3 separate regions of the Homo sapiens genome follow, and regions 2 and 3 are each linked to region 1. The links come from fine-mapping of genetic effects on gene expression. A gene starts in region 1. Each other region holds a variant in brackets. All regions are shown on one strand. Distances are from middle to middle.

Region 1 (8,182 bases):
TAAAATGTTATTACCATAACCCAGCTTTCCTTTGGTTTAGTATGTACTTATTGAGAAGGGCACTCAAAATACTGCCTTATTACTTTCCACCAGTGGCTTTTTACAACTACAAATTACTTAAATGCTTGACAACAGACCTTTAACAAAAAAGTTAACTGCACCAAGTAAATGTCAATAATACTAAGTTCAGAAAGCTGTATTTTTGATAAATCAAATTCATCTTGTGGGAAACTGTCAACAAGGAAAATGTTCAGTTGGTAATTTTCAGTTGGTGTGTAGAGAAATGTAATTAGCAGATCATTTTTAAAACTGGAGATTAGAGCAGAAATATAGCTATGGGATTAAAACAAGTCAGCTGGTGGCAGTATTTTCTCTTGTAACTTAGGAAACAGTTAACCTCTCAAAGTACCTTTACATCCAATAACTCAAAAATGTTACTACTATTTGGGCAATATGTAGTTGTGGATAAAATTTACTTTAAAAACACAAGATATAAAGTATGAATAGTTTATCTGTATAGGACATTGAGCATTTCTGGTGTGCTTATCCGCTTAAAGTTTAAATTACCAGCAGAATTTGTTATACTTTGGGGTGCAGATTAACAACCGTTGATTCTCCATAAAAATGTTAGAGTGTAGTGGGTTGGAAGATTACCTCGGTTGGTTGAATGAAGTGTTTTGGAAAATAAAATCATAATGAAATTAGCATGTTATGATTAGTTTCTCCATAAACCAAGATTTGACACAGCACCGCAGAGGTTTTCATTATTTAAGAAAACAAGCACTTAACAAAGCCCTGAATTTACTCTGCGTTGCTATCAAGAAAAGCAAACTTCAAGAGCCAACATTCAAGCATTTTCTGCATCTTAAGATTCAAGATAAGGTTCTTCACCGCCCTTCCCACAATGAGGCGGCTCCATCCTGATGAGATCAGATTAAGTAAGGTTATTCTCAAGGCTAAACCAAACCCAATCAAGGCACATATATTAGATCACTTTTGAATGATAAAAGCATCAAACTCCTGCTGAAGGGTTTGGTTGGTTTAAAGAACTGCCTTATTTGTTTTTCAACTGAGCATCAGAAAACCATAGAAAACTGCGATTACATTATATTCAAAACTACTTATTCTGTACAAATACAGATCAGTTTTCAACGAAAAGTACTAAAACTGACCACTTACTTCCCTCAGTGAAAATAAAATAAAAATACAAGTATCTTGTTTTCCACGCAGACTTCAGGGTATTAGAGCACTGAGTATTTTCATTAGTTATCCAAACTACCTTTTTTCTCTATGCAAAGGTATTTTCCTATTAGGAGTAGTGGCCACTCAGGAATCAAAATGAGTGTTAGTAGATTTTAAACTCAAATCTAGAAACCACTTTCAATTCCTAGTCCTCTTCTCCCATACAAAACCTCAAAGATGTAAGTACCACATAACATTAGAATCAAAGGCCATAAAAACCAAAAAACCAACCCACCACACCAGCAGAATCTGAGCCCCAAGGTTAAACTAAAAAGAAAAAACAAAAAACAAAACCATTCACAGCACACTGTACATAGAATTTATTTGTTTGCCTCATACATTAAAAAATCGGAATAGTGCAATTACCTACAAATAATTTCAATCTTCTCATTCGCGAGTTGCAAAGTTTAAAGAGAAACTTTAAATTGCTTTGGGTTTACGTTTTTAAAGACACACTCAGATTTACTAAGAGAGCATATCAGAAACCAGATCTAAAATGTTAAGGCATAAACTTTAATTATCAGGTCTACTTCTTCTGCCCCTCTAATGCCAGTTCTGCAGATCGCTCACACCACTCCAACCTACAGCTAAAGAATGAAGTAAAACAGGTACACACTAAATTTGGCATTTAACTGCTGAAAGAAGTGTTAGAATTTTTTAGGGTGAAAAAGTTATCTGTATCAATTATCTTACACAATTCCACTCCTTCCTTCAAGAAAAGGAATCCAATGGCTTAGCTCTTTCCCAACCTTTAAAATGCATCGCGGTCCACCCCACTCCCCTCAATTCCTTCTAGGAAAATGTGAAACTAACGGTTTCCGTGGTGGCCGCGCCGGCCGGGCGCCGAGGCTTCGCGGGCTGTCCCCAGGCAGCGCCCCGGAAAACAAAGGGGATTCCCAGCCATTGTCCTCCGCGGCGCTGAGCATCACCAGCACTAGCAAGGCAGTAGCTTGCGCAGTTATCTCCACAGCGGGCAATGTCACAACCCGACCAACAGCACAAACTACTACCTCAGCCAGGGCCATGGTGTCGGGGAGGCACGGGACCACGCGGAGGGCAGCAAAGCGGCTCCGGCGCTCCTCCGTCCTTCCTCGCCGCCGACGTCGGCCCGCCGCCCCTTCTTTTCCTTTGCCTTCCCCCCGCGCCGCGCCCGGAGACCCCGCCCAGCACCCAGCGGCTCGGCTACTCCCGGCGCGCCCCGAGAGCTACGGGGATGAGAGGCGGCGCCGGCGCCCGGGTGATACAGCCGGCGTTCTGTACGTCAGCCACCGCTCTGAAGAGAGAAAAGCGGCGGTGTCCTGCGGAGAGAGCCGCTCCCTCCACTGCCCGAGGGGAGCGCGTCGCCTCAGCCGCTCGAAAGCAGGAAATGGGCGGCAAAAGCGCAGTCAGACACCAACTGGTTCTGGACTGCCCCCGAGAGGCAGCGAGCAGCGCTCCCGCGCTTCGCCCGCTAGGAGCTGCCGCCACGTCCCGAGCTGCGCCGCTCGCGCCCCTCCCTGCTCCGAGTCCCCGGTGGGGGCTGGGCTGCGGCCGAGTCCGGTACCCGGGCCCCCACCCGCGCCGCGCTGTCGAACCCGCCGCCGGCCCGCTCTCGGCGCCGATAATCGCCGGCGGGCATCCCGCAGAGGCTGCCGCCGGCTCCGCCAAACAGCAGCCAAGGCATAGCCGGGAAGTCCCCAGGCCACCCGTTCCCCAGCACCCTTCGGGGAATTCCCGTTCAGCTCTACAGGAGGCGAAAACGGAACAAACGAAAACCCCTTAACAGTGAAACCGGGCCCGGCGATGGCCCGGGTGGCGACTGCGACGACTCGACGCGTGCGGACACAAGACCCGTCTCGCGCTCCGCTGCTCCTGTGCGTCCGGACGAACCTTAGAGATCACTTAAGGAGGCTCGCGCGCTACTCCTCACCACGTGACCGCCCCGCCAGGCCGCCCCCCGCGCCGCCATCTTACATCCGGGACAGAGGCGGCGTCCCCTTTCCCTGCCTTGGCAGGCGTCAGCGTGCTACCAGAAATCAGCCCTGAAAGAGGGGACCCCGATTCCACGTCACCAGAGTGCTGAGGCAGCGGGCGATGCCCTCCATCGGCTCAGCGGGGGGGAGTGGAGTCCCAAACTTTTTTCGGCCTTTGCCCGCAAAGAAGATGGCGGCGCATATCGCCGCCTAAGCGGACACGTTGTACCCTGGCCGTGGTTTGAAGTTTCCGGCACCTCCTTTCCCAACCAGCAAGGACACAACCATACGAGCCCCACCCACGCGGGGTGGCTGCCGTGCTACATTCCGCAGAAAACAGGCGGGAAAGCTGCGGCACAGCCCGCTTTAAACGCAAGCTTTTGGGACTTCTGGTTTTGGCTTTTTCTTTTTAAGCCAAGTTAGGGAGAAGGCTGACTGCCATGGAGCCACTTCTGCTTTTGGCCCAGACAACTTACGGGATTTTTTTTTTCCTCCCATTTAGAGATTTTTTGTAGGAAGTTAACAAATTATTTTAAAGAAGTAGTTAGGGCTTGTCAGATAAAATACAGGACGCCCAGTTAAATTGGAATTTCAGATAACCAGTGTTTTGGCATATGTGTGTTACATATATTTTTAAAATTGTTTATCTGATATTCCAATTTAACTGCACATTCTCAATTTTTAATGACTGTATCTGGCAACCCTATCAGCCTTTACCCCTGAAAATCCAGACTGCTTATGACAAAAGTAAGGAATGGAGGGAAATGAAAAGCATGTTTACCTACAACTTAGAATTGTCTTTGCCCAGACTTTGATCCTTCATGGAGGCCAGAGGGCCGTGGTCTAGAACAAAATTTGGCAGCAACTCATAAAGATATCCTTGTATAATTCCCTTTCTGGCAAAGTAAGATTTTTTTTTTCTTAAGCTATCACGATGTAATTTTGGACAACAGATCCTCTTGGCCAAGAGTTTAATTGCAAATTAAAAATTAAATAACTGGCTTTTTGTTTCTATTCTACATGGTATAGGCGATGGGACCCAAACAATTTCTTAAAGTAGAAGTTTTCAAGTTAAAAATCAGCCTGCCTGACATATTTCATAAGAACATTTTTAGGTGCATATTCAGAAACTATTTCCAATTAAGAATATTTGTGTAAACATAATACATTTGCAGTTAAATGCTTTACCTGACAAAGCATAAACTCACCTATCAATCACTAAGCATAAACTCAAAGCAAAAACTCAATCACACCATAAACTCATCTATCAATCACTTACCAGAAAGTCTGTAGAAACTTCACACCATCCTTCCTTGATAAGCAAAGATTGGACTGCCATGGGAATCAACCCTCACTGCTCATTGACTGCGCAGTGGATCAGATTATTCTGTACCAAAGCAAATGTCCTTTGCCATAATGGCACAGATTTTTAAATGGCCACTAAACACCTGTTTGGTCTATGGTATACAGATTTGTTACAGCAGTAGTTTCCAACTAAATTTAGTCATTATACTACTTTATCACTTACATTCCTTTCCATAATGTTTTTAACAGTGCTAACACCAATATACTCATCATCCACATATAATGTACTGTTACCATCAACTTTTTCTCCCCCCTCCCTGCATATCAGGAATCTTAAGTATCCTTTCTGAATATGACCACCGTTAATCAATTCTTTATCATCACCTCATAGCAAGAAAATTGCAACAGCTTTCTAGCTTAGCTTTCCATACTGTATATATCCTATCCTGCTTATGATTGCAAGTTTATCTTCCTTGGTTTTATAATTTATTCTTAAATCACTCCAGACCCTGCCATCTCAAATCTAAACTACTCTCCTTGGCTTTCAAGGAATTTTATGAAGGGACCCAATCCTTCACAACCAACCTTGTTTCACACAATACACCAAAATGCACTGTTTTCTATTTCACAGATATGCCTTGCTCACATTATCTTGCCTGAAATCCCTCCGTATATCCTTTGAACTCATCCAAAATCTAGGTAGCCATCAAGACTAACTTTAATTTCTATCTTAACCACTGAGCTTTTTCATTTCTTTAAAAAACTTCCTTCTGACTACTAACAGCACTATTAACCTGAACCACAGAAGACTAGGCTAAGGTTCCTATTTTATGATTTCATTTTAATCTGTACTTGTCTTTTACTGTACTTTACATACTTGTTAAAAGGTCTGTATTCCCTATAAAACTGAAAACTCCATGAGGACAGAGACTAACCCAATGCTTAACGCAAAAACAGGGTCTAAACAGTTGTTAGTGATACACCAGTATTTAATTGTATAGTCTTGTATCCAGTATTATTTTATATATGCGGTTTCCTTGACTAGCTGTAATAAGCACTTGAGAGCGCTCCAAATAGCTTCTGTCATACAGCAAGGACACAGTTATTAGCACACAGTAGATTCTTAACATTCAGTGGTTGTCTGGTGAAAGGCAAAAAATTGGTCCCTATTGTGGGAAGACATGGATTTTCTGGCCATTCTTGAATGATGTGTGCCAAATGTGTTTTACTTCCCTAACCACCTAGTGGTGATGATGCTCCAGGCACAGCGCTTTAGAACACACTACATTTTGAATTCTGTTAAATACCACGATTAACTCCATTTCACAGAGGAGGACACCAAAACAGGTTAATTAACTTGCCCAAGGTCACACATTTAGTAAAATAACAGAGTTGGGATTTGCATCTAAGAAGCCTGGCCCCAGACTCTGGGCTCTTAACCACAATGCTGTTATTTATAACATAACTTCTTAAAACACACAACATATGTTTTAAATAGATAAAATGTTTTAAACCTGGACCAATAATAAAAACCCAATGCAACTTTCAAGGTCATCGTTAAGACAAATCTTTTTTTCACAGTATTTTTAGTTCTTTGTTATGTTCAAGTATATTTGTCCCAGTGCCCATCATAGAAATAGTAATTGCCTCAAGAGTATTTTTAGTTTATTTTATAAGTCTTGGATTTTAATGGACTGTAAAACATGAAACTATTGTACTGTAGTAGAAAGAACTGCTTTTGAAAAAGCAAGACATAGTGATCCACCTGGACTTTAGGTATGTGACTCTAGGCAGCTCACTTCAACCCCCTAATCCTTGACTCTTCTGTAAAATGAAAATAACTTCTTTGCAAGGCTACTTTGAGGATTAAAGGGAATAATATAGGCAAAGCCTTGGCCTGCACATACTAGGTACTCCAGAAATGGTGGTTAAAATTACGCATCAGAAAAATTATTTTAACTATATCTGACTGCAGTACACACTGAGTAACGTACAAATTCTTGTTTTATACTTTCATTACATAACAAAAAAAGGAATTTTAATGCAAATTATTTTCTTTGAGAGGTAGAGAGATAGTCTGGCATTGATATGGACAGGCAGTTTCAAAACAGCTTCACCAAATTAAAAAAAAATGCTCATAAGATTAAGATAATCTAATCTACATCAGGATTTTTACTTGACCTAGCATTTTTACTTAAAGTTCCAAATCTTTCTTTCTAAACTATTGAGAGACACTTCGTGTCTTCTGTTTATTATTTTTTCATTTTATATATTAATGGTTTTAATAAAGCTCTCAAGAACATTTCCCCTTTACTCTATAATTTTTTTTTTCCCAAAGTGATCATCCTAAACATGTGACTCACTACTCGTAAAGTCTTTAAACAGAGTAAGTGATGTGGGGTGTCAATAATGTTTCAGACTTAACGGGGATGAGAAAGCAAACACAAAGTATATTCAAGAAAAAAATGAATCACTGGTCAGATCCAAAGGTAAATTATCAAAGTGGTTATGATTTTAAGTTATAAAGAAACACTAGTGTTGCTGGAACATAATTAAAAACCTGGAATCATGCTTAATGTTAGCTGTAAAACAAATAAACAATCTGTACAATCACAGTTATAACTATATAGCTTTCATGAAAAATCTATCCTAGACTACAAAGAAAATTTGGGTTTGAGGCCAATACAATTTCATGATTATAATACATAACTGATACATCTCAACAACATAAAAATTGTAAGGAGAAAGAGTAACAACAGTGGTATTACTTTCAAGAATTGTGTTGGGAACTAAAAAATAATTTCACAAAATTAGATAAATATATCCAGTCTGACATAAACACCATATGGTAGCTGCCTTAAGAGACAGGAGTTGTATGTTACGTGTTAAATTATGACACAGAGGTAGTAGTAAGAGATGGAAAGCAAATGAAATTTGCACAGTTGGGTCTGAAGCCTAATATTTTCTTTTTCTAGATAAAAATAAAATTGCAATATAGGTATGGAGTATTTTTCTCCATCTAGTAAACATCATAGAAGGAAGCAGTTGTTAATATATTGCAATGATTTTCCAAATAACGGCATGGTTTAGCAGATCTTCCCTGGCTGCACTGTTTATTGAATTTTAGTTTAAAATAAAACTTAGTGTAACTACATTCGCAGCAACTGAAAATGGTCTGAAAATTTAATTTTTTCATACTTGAGGGGATAGAATCAATACCATAGTACAATTAGGAAGGTTTCAATTGACCTCTGGGTGACCTCTGGGTGAACCAATCACACAGACACCAAATACACTCCAGAAAGACTCAGATATGAGAACTATAAGATTCCGGGTCTTCCATCAAAGACTGCTTTGCAACAGAAAAATGAAAATAGTTGAAATACATGGGCAATATGCTGCCTCAAATTATTCTTGTAAGTAGGCAGTGTCAATATAAATCAATATTAAGATGGGATAAATCTAAAAGTTTAAACGTCTGCCTCAAAAAAACAAATATCTCCCCCACCCCCCAAAATCATAAAAAACCAAAACCCTAATTAAAAATATTTTTTTGAACTAGAGATAGGATCTTGCTATGTTGTCTAGGCTAGTCTCAAACTCCTGGCCTCAAGTGATACTCCCACCTTGGCTTCCCAAAGTGCTGGGATTACAGGTGTGGGCCACCACGCCAGCCAAAACCC
Region 2 (8,182 bases), 51 kb before region 1:
CAAGGGGCATCTGTGGACCAGCTCTCAGCAGTGAATCTAAGATGTGTGCCTCTTCCCAGGATGAGTTGCCTAGTTCTGGGCACAACAAAGGCCATTCCCTATTCTAAGCCACCCCTGACCCTCCACCCACCAAGACGCCACTGCCATAGACCCCTGCCAACATTCCAAAGCTGGGAGAGCTTTTCTACCTCTTAAATTTCTGAGGCCTGCTCAGAATGCAAAGGGGATTCCTCCTCCTGTTCCCCTCACACTGTATTACTGCGGGTGTCAGCAGATGGAGCCTGCCTTTTATATGCAAATATTTGGAAGCCATTAATTCCCCAGTTCCTGCCACTACTCACCCTCTTATAAGACCCTGTCTGTACCATCCAAATGGCAAATTGAAGTTCCCACCCAACAAGAACTATTAAGAACTTTAAGATACGGTGATAGCCTGCAGCCTGAAATTGACTTATTTTTGACACTGTTGTGCTGATTCAGATGCTAAAGATTCAGAAAACAGACTATAAGACGTAGATGACTTATGACAAAACTCCTGGGGAGGAGAAAGGCATTTAATATCTAATAAGGAACATAACTAACACTTATTGACCTCCGATTGTGTGCCAGGCACTGTGCTGAATGCTTTATGGAAAGATCACATGGCTGTTACAGGAGCCTTGGAGGTCTGCACTATTATTGAGTAAGGAAAGAGGGGCTCCAAGAGGCTAAAAACTTCTTCCAGAGCCACCCATCTGGATGGTGGGAAAGCCAGGATTGGAACCTGGGCAAGCCACGCTTACACCCAGAGCCCTTTTCTGGTCCATTAGGAAGGAAAAGAACTAAGGACAGCAACAGAATCTGCAAGGACAAGAGGACAATCGAGGATTTATGGCCTCCTTCCGCCTGACTTTAAGAGTCAGTGGTTATGAAAAGAGCTTTGGCCTTCCCATCGCTCTTCAGCCCCTCTTCCTTTTTGTTTTCCATGCCTCCCCTGCTGTCCTTTCTCTGCTCCCTCCCGCTCAGAGCCTGAGCCCTGTGGAGTTTGCCAAGTCTGATCCCTGCCCAGCAGCCATTGCTTTCAGCAGAGCTTTGCTGATAAATATTGAAAGCTTCAGCTAGAGAAGAAAAATGTTCTCAAAATTCAAAACATGTCTCCTGGGGAGACTCTTCATTAGGAGTGGGCATTTCAAACTCCTCCGCAGTTGTCTAATGCAGCCTGGCCCAGCATTCAGTGACGGCACTAGGGCTGCTCCACACACAGCTTCCAGAAGCATCGGGCTCCGGCTGCCACACAGTCCCAGTTGGTGTGTAACAGAATCCACTACCCATTGGCTGTCTCCAGCTGTACCATATTCTTCTTGGCTGCTCTCTTGGATATTTTATGCTTATACAGTATGTATGTTTTGACTCAAATTTTCTTCTACTACTTTCTACAGTTCTCCTTTGATGGCACCTAAATGCCCTTGTGTTCAGCCTCAATAACAAAACCAATAAAGCCTTCCTGTTTTAATACCACCTTAAGCACTTTCACTGTCACCAACCCAGGGATCCCTGATGTAAGGTAGAAATTGGAGAATACAATGGGGGCAGGAGAAGCAGTTCTTTTCCTTCAGAGAAAGTTGTTTGTTTGTTCTTGCCCCAGTCTTGACATAAAGCAGCCTAGCAAAGGATTTCATGCATTTCATATGGCAAGGTGGCTCCGAAGATGGATGCAAATGAGCTCTGAAATGGCCACCAGCCTGGCCCAATATGGTAGCTAGCTGACACAAAAGGCCTTCTCCCAAGAGCTGAGTCCCCGGGGTTGTGTTGAGTTAATGAATCTATGAGGAAAGCTCCTGCGAGTGACTTCATCTTCCCCTAATGCTGTTGCTGAGTTTCACTGCAATGCTGGTCTCCTGTGGCATGAAGGGAATGTCAGGAAGCTGGTCCTAGAGCATTCGTACTGTCACCTATGGAGTGCAGCATCTAACGGCTCAGTTGTCCACGCACACTGCTCTTGGACAAGGAGGGATAGACATGCACTGGAGAAGCCGGCGGAGAGAAGCCGTGTGAAGGAATCCGACCTCCTGGGAACAGGGTAGGAAGAACAGGTCCTAGGAATCTTCCCTAAACTTCTCCCTCAGGCGGGGCTGTCCTTACGCTTCTGAAGCACATGGGTACATGGATCAGGGCAGCTGCCTGACAAGACTGAGGTTTTATGAGGAGGAGGAAATGGCTGGGTAGGTTTACCACACAGGAAAAGTGTGAAGTTAAACCTCATATGGTTAGCAGCGGCGAATCCATACAGGTCTGCAGCAACTCAGTTCTTGCTGCCTTGGAGGAAAGAATTCAGCCCAGGGACAAAAGGCAGAGTGAGAGACCGAGGCAAGTTTTAGAGGAGGAACGAAGGGAAGTAAAGTACATTTGGAAGAGGACCAAGCGGCCAAGCGGCCAACTTGAGAGATCCAAGTGCCTTGTCCGGCCTTGACTTGGGGTTTTATACATTGGCATGATTTGCGTTTCTTCTCCCCTGATTCTTCCCTTGGGGTGGGCTGTCTGCATGCACAGTGGCCTGCCAACAGTTGGGAGGGGCTGCATATGCAGTGTGCTTACTGAAGTACGCATGCTCATTTGTTTTTCCCTTATCTGTTGAGTGTTTCTGGAGGAAGGCCATATGATAGTTAAACTCGGCCATTTTGCCTCCTAGTGCGTGTGCCCACTCGCCTATCTCCTGAGACCTTATCAGGAGGCTGATCACCTGCTTCAGGTGTTGCTTTTTTTTTTTTTTTTTTTTTTTTGAGAAAGAGTCTCTCTCTGTCACCCAGATTGGAGTGCAGTGGCACAGCCTCGCTTCCCAGGCTCTAGAGATCTTCCCACCTCAGCCTCCCGAGTAGCTGGGACGACAGGCATGTGCCCAGCTAATTTTTGTATTTTTTTGTAGAGACAGGATTCACCACATTGCCTAGGCTGGTGTCTAACTCCTGGGCCCGAGTTAATCCACCCGCCTTGACCTCCCAGAGTGCTAGGATTACAAGCGTAAGCCACTGCACCTGGCCAGGTGTTTTCTATTGGGAGACTGCATTTCCCTGGTGCCAGCTGTGACCAATTGTTATTTTAGAGGGTTTAACAATGGCCTGACTATCACCTGATGGTCGCCAGACATTCCTGGGGGAGGGCCCTCCCCTGCCCTGATCATGTCTACCTAACTGCCTACTCTAACAATACTACTCCTGTGGTATGGGGATCCTAAGCCAAAAAGCTGAAATGAACATGTTCTAGCACTACAGAAATCCATACTGCCCCTCAGTAAAGGCAAATTTTAAATCTCTTTGGATAACCCAGGGCACATGTGAACAACCCCTTCTGAAGAAGCACTTATTCTTCTTCACACTCACCATGAAAAAGAATAACCAAATACAATAGAGCCTTCCCTCCGGGCCCTCAAAGAAAACCTGGGTGTAACAGAACAAGTTTAGAAGAGAGTTAAACTTGTGCAAATAGAATCATAAGGTCAGAAGAGGTCAATTTGGTTCTTTGGACAAGAACCAAAGAGAAATTCACAACGGTGAAACACTGTCATTGAAACAAAGTAATTCACTAAATGGATAGTAAACTGCTAAAGGGAGTTAGTGAATTGAAAGATATCGCAGAGAAGTTGAAATCTGCAAGGTAAAATAAGATCTAATAAGAGTTTATGGAGAATATCTACAAAATAGAGGAGAGGCAATATCCAAAAAGTTGATGGCTGAGAATTTTTCAGAAGTTTTCAGTTTGAAAGAGTAAAACTAATTTCTTACCATGATAAGTAAAAAGCTCCTTTTTGTTATGTCTTAGTGGTACTTCATATCAGCAACAAAAACACAAAAACTTGAAAAGCTATCAATGACAAAAGCCATTTACCTATAAAGGAATGATAAAAGACAGACTTCTCAAAAAGAGTAGAAGTCAGAAGTAAGCAGAATAATGTCTTCAAACTGCTGAGGGAAAATAACAGACAATCTAGAATTGCATAACAATAAAGCTATCAGCCAAAATCAAAGGTAAAAATAAAGATTTTCTTAATCCAAAGACTAGGTGAGCT[T/C]ACCACTCACAGACCATTGTTAAAAAAATTACTAAAAATGTAATTCAATGGAAGGAAATTAAATCCAGAAGCAAGGAGTAGTTTCATAAAAAGCAAAGAAGTTAGTATGTTGGTTTATTTATGTAAGTGTAGATTGTAAATGATAATGATTAAGGCAGGCTCAAAAAAAGGTGAATTAAAATAATAGGCAGTAACATGGAAAATGAAAGAAGGCATTCTAAGGTCCTTTTATTTTCAGGAGGACAGAAATACGATTAACTTATATACTAAAAATTTAACATAACTGATAATAGAAATAACACTTCCAATCCAGTTGGGGGAGGGGAATATTAAAGCTATCCACCTGACAGAAAACAAGAAAGAAGGAAAGAAGCACATAATAAATTAAAAACACAAAATAAGTTTTCATATGTGTGTGTATATATGACTGCAAAATATAGGTACAGGTCTACCAGTTTTTGCAATAAACAAAATTATCATCTTAGTGACTATATGGATTTTGTTTTAATTAGCCATGTGCTACTAATAAAATACACTTAAAATAATGCAAAGTTTATTAGCTGGGCATGGTGGAATATGCCTTAGTCCTAGCTACTTGGGAAGCTGAGGTGAGAGGATCACTTGACCCCAAGACTTCAAGGTTACAGTGAGCTATGATTATGCCACTGCACTCCAGCCTGGATGACAGAGCGAGGCCCTGTCTCTGAATAATAATAATGCAAAGTTTAGAAGTCCTACACTGCCCTGTGGATTTCATAATTGAACAATATCAGGGTGTGAAAGTGGCATTGAAAAACACTATGATTTCTTGCCTAAGAGACCAGGATACCATTAACTAAGGATGATAGCTGGGGATGTTCCACTTTGGAAGTAAAAAGAAATTAATGATCATTGAGTTCTTCCTAAGTCTTAGTTAGGGCCTACAAAGGAAATTAAGAAGGAGCATCAGAGAGAAGGACTTGTGCTGTGTGTCATGGAAGCCCAGTCACAGGAGAACTTGGAGTGGGTTATGGCATGGGAGCCCCAGAAAGAAAGGAGAATTCAAGAACAGAGATTTTTAAGGATAAAATAATCAGCAGTATTTGTGCTGAACACAAAGGGTTAAGCAGAATAAGTATTGAGAAGCCACCCTTGGATCAAGCTTTAAGAGGACAGATTAGTAGAGTATTGGGCCTACTGGTAAGAGACAAAGGAAGAAAATGGGAAGTAATAAATTGAGAAAGCAAGAGTGGATTTTCCCTCAGGAAGTTAAGCACCTAAGGGAAAACAGAGTGGATGGTGAAGAGAGAACCAATCTCAAAGGAAGTTATCTTGGAATAGGAAATAACCATATTGAAGAATGAAACCTTAATTACCTACAGCCCTCAGGGAAATGAGTTTCCTGGGTAGCCATCTTTTCTAGGTGACCTAATCCTTGCTTTTTAAAAATACCAAGCTAATTTTGACCATTTAAAAAATATGCAAAGTCACTAGTAATAGCAGCATCAGGGTGGTCTCTTGTTCATCTTTCATGACTCTAATAAAGCCAGTCATTTCTCCATGACTGCAGGACCTGTTGAGGCCTGTTTGGAGCTTAAAATAGCCATAAAGAGTTGTGTTTTGAGTTCCTGTATCTGTTTTTTGACATCTTTGAGTGTCTGTCTATCTCTTTTTCCATGTCTCATGGGTAATGTGCTGACGTAGTAACAAGGTTTAAGGGAGGCACATTTCACACGTAAGTGTGAAAACTCAAACATCAAGCTTATGAACTACAAAAGGATTGAGTATCTTTTATTGTCAGGCATATTTTCTCATAGCATACCATAATTTTCTATGTCTAGTCAGCTCATACCTGGGTTAAGGTGTGTTCAGGCCTGATAGGCAAATAAACTTAGCCAGGTTTCTGAACCTAAAAAGCTCAGGTGCAGACTGATCAATCACCAGGATAATAAACATCACTCTGGTGTGGCTGGTGGCCTTTCCCCATGTGTTTATGTCTCATATACAATTTAATATAAAACTAAGAGTAAGCTGGGGTGATATGGTTTGGCTCTGTGTCCCCACCCAAATCTTATGTCGAATTGTAATCCCTACATGTCAGGAGAGGGACCTGGTGGGAGGCAATTAGATCATGGGGACCGAGTTCCCCCATGCTGTTCTTACGATAGTGAGTGAGTGAGTTCTTACGAGATCTGATGGTTTAAAAGTGTGGCATTTCCCCCCTTCACTCACTGTCTCCCGCTGCCATGTAAGACATGCCTCGCTTCACCTTCACCATCCGGCATGATTTTAAGTTTCCTAAGACTTTCCCAGCCATACGGAACTGTGAGACAATTAAACCTCTTTTGCTTATAAATTACCCAGTCTCAGGTAGTTCTTCATAGCAGTGTGAGAATGAGGTGAGCAGCTGAGAGGCTTTTCTGACTATAGTGTATGAGCTGCAATATGTCGATTTTCAGATATTTACTTAGCTCTTCAGCCAAAGATCTCTTTGGAGGCCTTTATTTCCTGATCTCAAGAGGAGGAGAACCTCAGGACGAACTGTTTGCATCTTCCCTCAAGAATAACTTAAAGATTTCTGCCTCAAAGATGATAATTCTCTCAATACAGATAGAAAAAATTATTCACCTACTACCCCATCCTCTAGAAGGAAAGGTATTTATTTTGTATTGACTATAATATCCTTTCTGCTGTAGTGTATGTTACACTTCTGTCTGCTATCTGGGCTGTACAAATAGACTTGATCCTCAAAGACTGAACAACTTGGAATCTTCACAATCCTGGGATCATTTGTTAGAGGACTTGTTCTTAAATAATGTAACAATGATGCAGTTCTCAACATGAAAGTCTGTGAATTTTAGCAAAAGAAATGGAGAGGCTTCTGGGGTTCTGAATTCCATAACTCACAGCTCTGAAGGCGAGACTACTGAAACATTCCAAGTAGAGAAAGGTCACTAGCAATATCAGGGTGGTCCCTTGTAAAAGGCCCACAGGCTGGCTTCCAAGAGGACTTATACGGTGACATTTATTATCTTGATGATTTACCAGTCTGGCTCTTAGCTTTTCAGGTTCAGAAACTGATTTAATCAAGATACAGAAAAGAGATTCATTATCAGAGTTGGTCTCACCTTAACCAAGCTCACAAGATTGATCTGTAAAGCAAAATGCCACTTGACATTTAAGCAAAGAAATATAACTGATGGATATTCTTAAAGTAAAAACGACTAGCTCATTCTTTCCTGCAGGCAGGCCTACACAGGGAGGCAGATCATAATCAGGAGGTTCTTTGGTGAACACGAAATCAGAATAAAGCTGAATCATATGCTTAATGGTATAGACTAAGAAAATAGTCCATCCCACACCAAATATGACCCTGCCAGTGGAACTAAGTTCCTTTGAAGGCTGTCAACTATGACTCCCTCTGCTCTGGTCAGTGTTTGGATAGACACCTGCCAATGTTTTGTCTCATTTTTTTATGCCTCAGGGCTAACCCAGGCCCATACCCACCCAAATCACTTCCCAAGTTAGTCTTTCTCCTAGATGTTAATACTTTCCCATCAGCTTACAGTGTCATTCTTTCTCCTTAAGCTTACAGTTTAAATCTCAGCAATCTTATTTTCAAATTCTTAAGGGATCCCTTGCTGAACTTACATTGGTCAAGAGGAGAGGGTGACGCTGACAAGTAAGCAGCTCACTCACACCAAGGCTTATCAGTCATTTACAAAAAAAAAAATTAAATAAATTAAAAAAAAAAACCAAAAAACTTCACATTCTTGCTATATGCTTATGCCAGGTTGTATTATTTTTAACATTTTTCCTTAACTCACTTTTTTAAAAAATTTATTTTAAATGATTTTTACCATAAATAGAAAATGACTATTCTTTGTCACAAAAGCAATATAACTCTAAAACTAAATATATTGAAAACAAAAGTTCTGATTTTTCCCATGTACTTTTTAAGCTAGATACCATTTGTCATGGAAAGCTCTGAGCTTGAGCAGCTCTTTGAGCTATACTAGCAGCAAACTGAGACTCCCCTCAATGTAATCAATCAAAAACATCAAAAGAGGACTGAGGAGGTGAATAATGTAAGACATTATCTAATGTATTTAGTGCCTTATCCCACTACCATGTAAACAATAATCTCACATTAGGTGTCCT
Region 3 (8,182 bases), 120 kb before region 1:
GGTCCTAGCAAAGTAGCTGTAAGAGATGCCTATGACCCATACACTGAGGACCTGACCATCTGCCTGGTGGCAGAGATCCCTTGCTTTCCTACACTGCCAGGCTGTGATTTGCTCTGCCCACTCTTTTCCCTGCCAGAAAAGAAAGAAGATCCATTCCACCATGCTGCTCAGAAGCAGGTAGACAGCTTCATGTGGGGAAGTTCTAGTGCAGGCCTGCTTGCAGCATGTGGCCTCTGAGTAGAGAAGTTAGTACGTGAGCATTGCGTCTCTCGGATTGCTAGATTTGAATTTTGAATGTGACAATGAGACTGTTGTTTCAAAGCAATTCCCTAAGTGGCTGTTTGCTCAAGACTTTTGTAGTGTGAACAGAGATTTGGGGGAGGGGGAGAAGCCATCTGCTCCAGAATAGTCTTCGAATGACACGATCAAATGACTGCAGAGCAAACTGGAGGGAGTCCAACAGAAAGTTCCTGTCTGCTGCATCCAGCCCCAACCAGCACTCAAGCCATTGTGTTTACATGGAAGCTCACACACAGGTTTCAAAGGCAAGGCCGTGATAACCAAGGATGTAAGTGAGATGAGTGTGGAAAAGACCACGTCAGGGAGCTTTCTCACCCCGTATCTCACCAGTATACCATTTGGAAAACTAAAAAGCCATTCTTTAGAGAGAAGCTCAGTCTTTTTTCCTGATCCCTTCAGCTATGCATTTGGTTACAATTAATGTATCAGATCAAATGAAAAAGTTACATTCCTTTGTAAATTCATTTTTATGTGCTCGTCTTCTATTAGTGTTTAAACTCTGAAATCTATTTACTTAAAATATGAGGCAATTTTCTTGTTTTTAAAATATGGCCTGTCTCAATTTGCAAAACATCCTTGATTCTTATTTTGTTTCTCTAAATACGTGTATGTGTGTGTTTTTTCTTTTTCTTTTTGCTATTAGGCATTCATGCAGCCTCACTTGCTGGGAAATGAGTTCACACATTTGGAGTTTCCAAGGAGAGTACAGAGAAAGGAGCTTGGAAAGAAGATGCTCTACAGGGACTTTAATATGACAGGCTGGTAAGAACATGCCTTCCTCTGCCTCGGAACCACACAGTGTGTGTGAAGGAAGCATCACCACCATAAACAGCCAGTTACACAGTTTGGATCAGGAAGCACAGCCAGAGACCAGGGTTTGTGGTAAAAGACAAGGGGGTACACCTGCCTCTGCTATGTTTGCTTAGGACCAAATCACGAGCCTTGGTTTGCCTCTCTGCTTCTTCGAGGCCCTCCTTGGGGATATTGGACCCCAGGAAACTGACCTGATTTCTCACTTCACATGTAGCAAATATTTGAGGGCTTTAAAAACACATGAAGCTTTATGTGTTTAGGTCAGGGTTATTAAAGAGGTAGAATGGCCAAAGGTTTATTGAGCCAGACTGACTTGGGTTTGAATCCTGACTCTGATTCTTCTAAATGAGCAAAGTTGGTTAAATTGCTTAACCTCTAGAGCCCATTTTTCCATGGATAAAGTGATAAAAAGATATATCCTTTGAAGATTCATTATCAAGGCTAAAGTTAATGAGCTATTCTCATTAATATCACATTCAAATTGAAATAAGAACTCTTGTCAGGGGGGTTGTCGTATTCCGAAAACACAACTGTGTAAGCATCAAGAACATTTCTAGGATGGAGCAGTGGCTAATGTTGACTAAGACCTCAGCTATTTCTTTTATCTGACTGATAGATATGATAAGTACTTATACACTATAGGGTTAATGTAAGGATTAAATGAGAGCGCAGTGCCTGGCACTGTGTGGGTGAAGATTTGCTCTTGTGCCCTGGGGTCCTAACGAGCGAGCCTCCTGCCAGTCTGGAGACCATATGAGAATGAGACCATGGACCCTTTCTTCCCCATATCTCCAAAAGAGTCAAAGAAGTAGATTAAGTAGATTTTCTTATCTCTTCCCCATTGACCAAAATAGCAATAGCAGATGGTCACAGCCCAAATTCCCATGGTGATGACTTGGCCAGGGATCTACTGCCAGGGTACATACTGTCTTCAGGGAACAAGTTGAGCTACCCAGAGAAGATAAGAGGCCAAGGGGCTTCTGGTTGTCCTTTGCCAACCAAGAGAAGTTTCTCACCTGTATCCACTCTTCTTCCTCTACAACAAGGTTAGCAAACTATGACCTAAGAGTCAAATTCTGCCTACCCCATCTACTTCCAGAAATAATTTTTAAAAATATAGCTACACCCATTTGTTTGTTTGATCTGTGACTGCCTTCACACTGCAACAGGGCAATTAAGTAGTTGCATCACAGACTGGTTCTCAAGCCTAAGAATTTACCCCTGCTCTAAAATATGAATGGATTTATCAGAAAGGGTTCACCTTTGCAGCTCTGAGTTCTGGAGTTTTGATGCCCCAGGGTCATCATACCAACCCTGACTGGGTTTTCTTGTGAATCCATTTTTATTTAGTTAGCAAAATCAGCACTTGTACAGGAAAAGTTTAATGTGAGAGCTAGTGTAATTCAGCAAAGCATCATGGGGTTTAGTCTGGGAACTGTAGAGTTTGGAAAGATGGAACGTTAGGAACCCACATGGTTGTAAACACATAAAAAGAGTAGATCTAAAAGACAGCAAGGAACATGACCAAATAGAAGAGGAGAGACTATGGGAGACAGATGGGGCTGGTACTGAGGGAACATGATAGGGAAAACGGGATGCCAGACAAGTTTAGATTTACTGGGAGGCTATGGGGTGCTCTTATATATTCCTGAGAAAGAGAAATAAATGAAAGTGATGTTTTTGGAGGGCCATTCTAAGAGAAGTTGGAATGAGATTGACTAGGAGAGAAAGCAGATTCAGGTACTCAGAGAAAAACTATCATAACAACATTTATGTGAGGTCTCGAGGCCTAAATAGAGGGATAGAAGCAGAAAACATGGAACGAAAATGAATAAGAAACTAAATGATTTAGGCCAAGGGATAAAGGTAAGAGGTTAAGTCATTGACAGCACCAGTTGCCTATTTAAATATGTCTCTTTAACAAGTCTGTAGGCTCCTTGAGGGGGACACCAGTGCCTAGTCCTGTGCCTGACACATAGTAAACAGGCAGCAATTATGTATTGGCTGAAAGGAATAAAGGAGGTATAATTGACAGAAGTGGGGAGATCAATGTTGCAGACAGTTGATGTGCACATTTAAAGCAGATTGAGCTTGAGGCAAGGCTGTACCTATGTTCTTTCTATGCCAGAAAGGCAAATTAGATCTAAAGTAGTCAAAACAAATGATAAATATCTGCCTAGGATTTTGTAATAAGGAAAAGTATCTTTGTTGCAGATGCTTAGTATTGATTCAAAGGGGGAGAAGAACAGCTCATTGTTACTAACTTTGAAAAGCACTCCTAATGAGATAATAGGCATCGTCACTTTAATGGGCCAGATGCTTTCAAAGGCTGTAAAGGTTCCACTCAAACCTCTCTTTGTAAGTAGAATGTGTGATGAGGTTAGTTTTTTTATGTTTCTTTCTCCAAACCCTGGAAGCTCTGCTTTTGTGTTTTGTTTGTTTTTGTTTTTTGTTTTTGTTTTTAGTGGCTTGTACATTTTAATATTTAGAAAATGGCTAAAGATTGTCCTGGTTTTATAATTAAAAAAAAAATGTAGCTAAGTTCAGGGACTAGATTATATCCAACTTTATATGCACACAGTTACTTTCTTTCACTCTTGCGTGCACACTTGCTCTTGTTCTCTTTCTCATTTTCCTTCTCTTTCTCTCTCTCTCTCTCTCTCTCTCTGCATTAGCATGGTCCTAAGCAGATAAACAGTCCACAAATGGGCTATTTTTAATTGTATAGAACTTCACAGAAGGTAATGAATAATGAAGGAGCCACAACTGAGAATGGCTTTAGTCAGATGTGATTTGCTGATTTGTTTTCAGCCTAATTCCCCAAACGGCTGTTGGCTCACAACCTTGGCTACAAGCAGATTTATGTGCATCTTTGTGCATTTCCTACCTGTTCCAACTTTTGATTTGAAAATAGGACTTAAGTTGAAGAAAAGCCCTTTACATCTTTGTCAGAAGAACCTAAGAAATTGAAAACCAGTTTAGGCCAAGCACAGTGGCTCATACCTATAATCCCAGCATTTGGGGAGGCATAGGTGGTAGGATCAGTTGAGTCCAGGAATTCGAGGGTGC[G/A]GTGAGCCAGAATCATGCCACTGCATTCCAGCCTGGGCAACAGAGCAAGACCTCATCTCTAAATAAATAAATGAATCAGTAAATCAATCATCCATTCAATTTAGACTACTGCCTACGTAAAGCACTCCCCCCAACTTTAATGAATTCCTTTTTAAAATGTTTTTACCCTCTAGCAGAAAGCCTTAGATCTAGCAGTTATTTTTTAGGACTTAAAGATGGGAGGCTGGGCATGGTGGCTGATGCCCATAATCCTAGCACTTTGAGAGGCCGAGATGGGAGGATCACTTAAGCCCAGGAGTTCAAGACCAGCCTGGGCAACATAAGGAGACCCCATCTCTATAACAAATTTTTTTTAAATTAGCCAGGCATGGTGGCATATGCCTATGGTCTCAGCTCCTCAGGAGGCTGAGGTGGAAGGATTGCTTGGGCCTGGGAGGTTGAGACTGCAGCAAGCCATGGTTATGCCACTGCACTCTAGCCTGGAACCCATTCTTCTGAAACCTTCTAACAAGTAAAAAGTCCACCTACTGCAAAGCTGTTTAATCCTTGTAGTAAATGCCTAGTTGTGGAATTTTTTTTCTTCCTCATCTTCCACTAATCATCATGGTAATGGGGCTGACAATTATTGGAAGAGCTAAGGGCCAGACACTATGATGAGAGCTTTACCTAATTCCTCATACCTAACGCTTAAAACAGTCCTGTGAACTAGGTACATTTTACAGATGAGGAAACTGAGGCACAGAGCTAAGTTGCTCAAGGTTACATAACTCGTAAGAGGAGAAAGTGGGATATGAATCCAGGCAGCGTAACTTCAGAGTGTGTGGTGCTTACTAAGGTGCTAAACTGCCAAATGTGGAATGACCCCCCCTTACTCCCATTTTGCAGGTGAGCAAATTGAGGCCTAGAGGTATTAGGTGGTTTGCTCAGCTTCTGACACAGCTTGCACACAGCTGATGCAAATGTGTCAGAATAAGGACTAGAATCCAGGTTTCTGACTTTTTGTTGGGGTTCTTTCTAATACAGTGTGCCAGTCAGCTTTTCTTTAGGATAATTAGACATGATCATTCAGTTTCGAGCTTCGGTGTACATTTAAGCAGGGGCCCTCTGTCCACCAGGACTGGTGTCTTGACGATCCTATAGGGTCAAGAGGATGGAATGAAGCATTTTAGGACTGCTGAGGCCGTCCCTTTTCTAGTCCCCAGTCTGACCCTGTAGACCATTGCTCAAATTAAACTGATGCTTCACACTTCTCACTAAGAGCTTGTGTCATTTGGGGGTGGGGGTTCTGGGGAAGATCCCAAAAGGACCAGTTCTTAGAAAAATTGCCTGCTCTCATTAGAGGAGCACCACGCCGGCACTCAGTGGTGTGTCTGCTGCAGGAGGAAGTGTGGGAGAGGATGTCAGCTCTGGGAAGGCTTGTCTCATAATTAAGGATGAGTCTGTTGCCTCTTAATGGGGATCCTTTTTTTTCCCACCCTCATGCTTTCACGGAGACTGTGGAGCAGCTTGGCAGGCTCAAATTGTTTTGAGGACAAAAGGTTATTGTCACCAGGACCTTCATAATGCAGTTGGCCTCTTCCCTGGCTCCCCCACCTCCCCTTCCCCCTCTCCTCAGATAGTTTGCACAGTGGCTAGATTTACAAAGCCATTCTCTTCGCAGTGCCCCCAGTGCTGAGTTCATTCCTGATGGAGTCTTCCCTTGCTCTCCCTATCACCCCCTTGGCTCTCACCTCCTGCGCATGGTGTCATTGGTCCCGGTGCCAGAATCCCCAAGCTGGGGCCCATCCTCCCCATCCCTTTGTGTTGAGCTGCTGTTGCAGGATGCACACTGTAGCTGGCATTGTGTTGCCTTGAGAGCAGTGTATCCCGACCCGCAGCCCTCTGAGATGTCTCAGGCCATAATTTACTGGCAAGTGTCTATGTTACCGAGTTGAAACAGCAGTTTCTCACAGCTCGCTTTGTGGCACCAAGTCTCTGCTCCTGTGACCACTGGCTATTCCGCTTTCTCAAGTAGGATCAGCGTACTTCGTGCCATGTCCAGCCACCTGGGGTGGCAAGCAAGCCAGGGACCCAGAGGGACATGTGTGTGGGAGGGGGCTGAAACTTCACCCCTGGCGCCAGGCCAGATTCTCCAGCAGCTGTTCCTGGGCTGATGGGATTTGTAGAGAGAGCAAGGGCCAAAGAAGAAAAGTCCATCTTGTGAATGCTAGATTGCTTCCAGATGGTTCTGGTCATGAGCAAAGTATACCAGAATTCTTCCTTTAAGCAAAGCCTTTCTAACGTTATGATGGTCTCATTTCAGGGGCAGGCTGGACTGGTAACTTGAGATCACATGCTTGACTTGGTAAAGAGAGTCCTGTTTTGGCGATAGGCACCTTGTGTACTTTGCTCTGCCAAGCTTCTGGGGCCTTGGGCAGATCCTGGCCTAGGTCTCTCGTAAATACTTCCTCTGACCATTGCTGCGAACCTCTAAGTGTGGTGGCGGCAGGGGGTAGGCTTTGCTCTGCTTTTAGAGCTGCTGGAAAAGACAGATCCCATTAGAAAGATTCCAGAGATGGCAGTGTTTTATTTTGTCCCTTAGAGCCCCTAACTTTTTATAATTCTAACTTGATGATACATCACGATAATTTTCCCTCCTCTGTTTCCCTTAAAACTATGAGCAAATAGGGGATTTTCCACTGGGAGCAGAGTGGAGTTAGCCCATTTTCTCCTTTCAGCACTTTCTACTTTTATTGAGGCAAAGAGAAATTTCCATTCTCTGTGCTCTCGAGCACAGTAGCCACTAGCCACATGTGGCCATTTAAATTAGCTAAATTACATAAAATTAAAAATTTATTTCCCGAGTTGCCCTAGCCACATCTCAGTTGCTCAGTAGCCACATGTGGCTAGTGGCTGCTGAATTGGACCATGCAGATATAGAACGTCTCCATCATCACAGAAAGTTCTACGGCATGGTGCTGTGGTCTACATAGTAGAAGAGCGTGGGTATAGTTGGGAATGGTGTGGTGCAAGGAGCTCTCTGTAACTCAGCATCCCAACAGCAAAGAGTTTTTTGTTTTGGTTTGTTTTTTTTGTTTTTTTTAAAGACAGGGTCTCACTCTGTCACTCAGGCTGGAAGGCGGTCACATGACCATGGCTCACTGCAGCCTCAACCTCCCGGGCTCAAGTGATCTCCCACCTCAGCCTCTTGAGTAGCTGGTACTACAGGTGTGTGACACCACACCCTGCTAATTTTTGTGTATTTTGTAGAGACAGGGTTTTGCCATGTTGCCTAGACTGGTCTCAAACTCCTGGGCTCAAGCAGTCCTCCTGCCTCAGCCTCCCAAAGCGCTGGGATTACAGGGATGAGCCACCAAACCTGGCCCCAAAGAGTTTTTTAAAAGGTGGGATGGGTACTGATAACTGTGGACAGGGAATGGTGTAGCCACACCGGCCTCTGGTGCCTCTGATGCCAGACTCTGAGTCAGCAGAGGGGTGGGCTTCACACCCCTTTCCTGATCCTCAGGGGCATCAGTCATTGTGCTTAGGAACAACTCACTTCATAGCCAGTAGTCACTTTTGGGCCACCAAGAAGCTGCATCCAGCTGGCCAGACTAAAGGGAGACCCATTTCATCAGCCCTAGTCAGTAGCGCACCTCCCCTCCTCAAGCAGCCCAGCAGCCTTCTTTCAGCTCTCTCCCCTATCTCCTGGATGAGGACCAGCTGCTGGCACTCTTGTCCCTCTTGCTTTTCCTTTGATTTCTTGGGGAGTAATTCAGGCCCTGAGAATATGATTTAAAAGCAGCTTGGCTTCCAACCCTTTCCACTGTGTTTGGGGTGACCTTTATTCTCCATCTATAGCCTGGAGTTTGGCTTGGGGTGGAGAAGCACAGCCCCACAGCATCAGGCTTCTCACCAACCATCCAAACGCTTTCTGGAGAGAGAAACTCACTGGAGATAGTTCCACACATGGTCTGGAGCTGCCAGGTTGGGTTTTACAAATATAGATACAGCTTCTATC

The links.
Region 2: its variant is fine-mapped to the expression of MIRLET7IHG in anterior cingulate cortex (GTEx, PIP 0.97).
Region 3: its variant is fine-mapped to the expression of MIRLET7IHG in thyroid (GTEx, PIP 0.94).

Annotation. Positions count from the first base shown.
Region 1 is chr12:62,597,765-62,605,946 of GRCh38, reverse strand. It overlaps MIRLET7IHG (MIRLET7I host gene), which reads right to left and starts at 3,204. Exons shown (of 2, transcript NR_186001.1): 1 at 3,112-3,204. It overlaps MON2 (MON2 regulator of endosome-to-Golgi trafficking), which reads right to left. Exons shown (of 35, transcript NM_015026.3): 35 at 5,471-8,182. It overlaps LINC01465 (long intergenic non-protein coding RNA 1465), which reads left to right and starts at 2,513. Exons shown (of 1, transcript NR_121682.1): 1 at 2,513-4,196. It overlaps MIRLET7I (microRNA let-7i), which reads right to left and starts at 2,261; the gene lies at 2,178-2,261. RefSeq lists enhancers at 1,821-2,342, 2,343-2,864, 2,971-3,160, 3,241-3,350, 2,865-3,386 and 1 more and silencers at 2,191-2,490, 2,581-2,890.
Region 2 is chr12:62,648,795-62,656,976 of GRCh38, reverse strand. All of the region lies in intron 9 of PPM1H (protein phosphatase, Mg2+/Mn2+ dependent 1H), which reads left to right. LOC124903103 (small nucleolar RNA U13) reads right to left here and starts at 5,802; the gene lies at 5,699-5,802. RefSeq lists enhancers at 502-1,122, 2,365-2,986, 2,987-3,608. The variant T/C (reference allele first, on the strand shown) is at 4,043.
Region 3 is chr12:62,713,051-62,721,232 of GRCh38, reverse strand. It overlaps PPM1H (protein phosphatase, Mg2+/Mn2+ dependent 1H), which reads left to right. Exons shown (of 10, transcript NM_020700.2): 6 at 944-1,062. Among named protein-coding and RNA genes, the nearest start is that of MIRLET7I, 110 kb to the right of the region's middle. RefSeq lists an enhancer at 3,153-3,665. The variant G/A (reference allele first, on the strand shown) is at 4,183.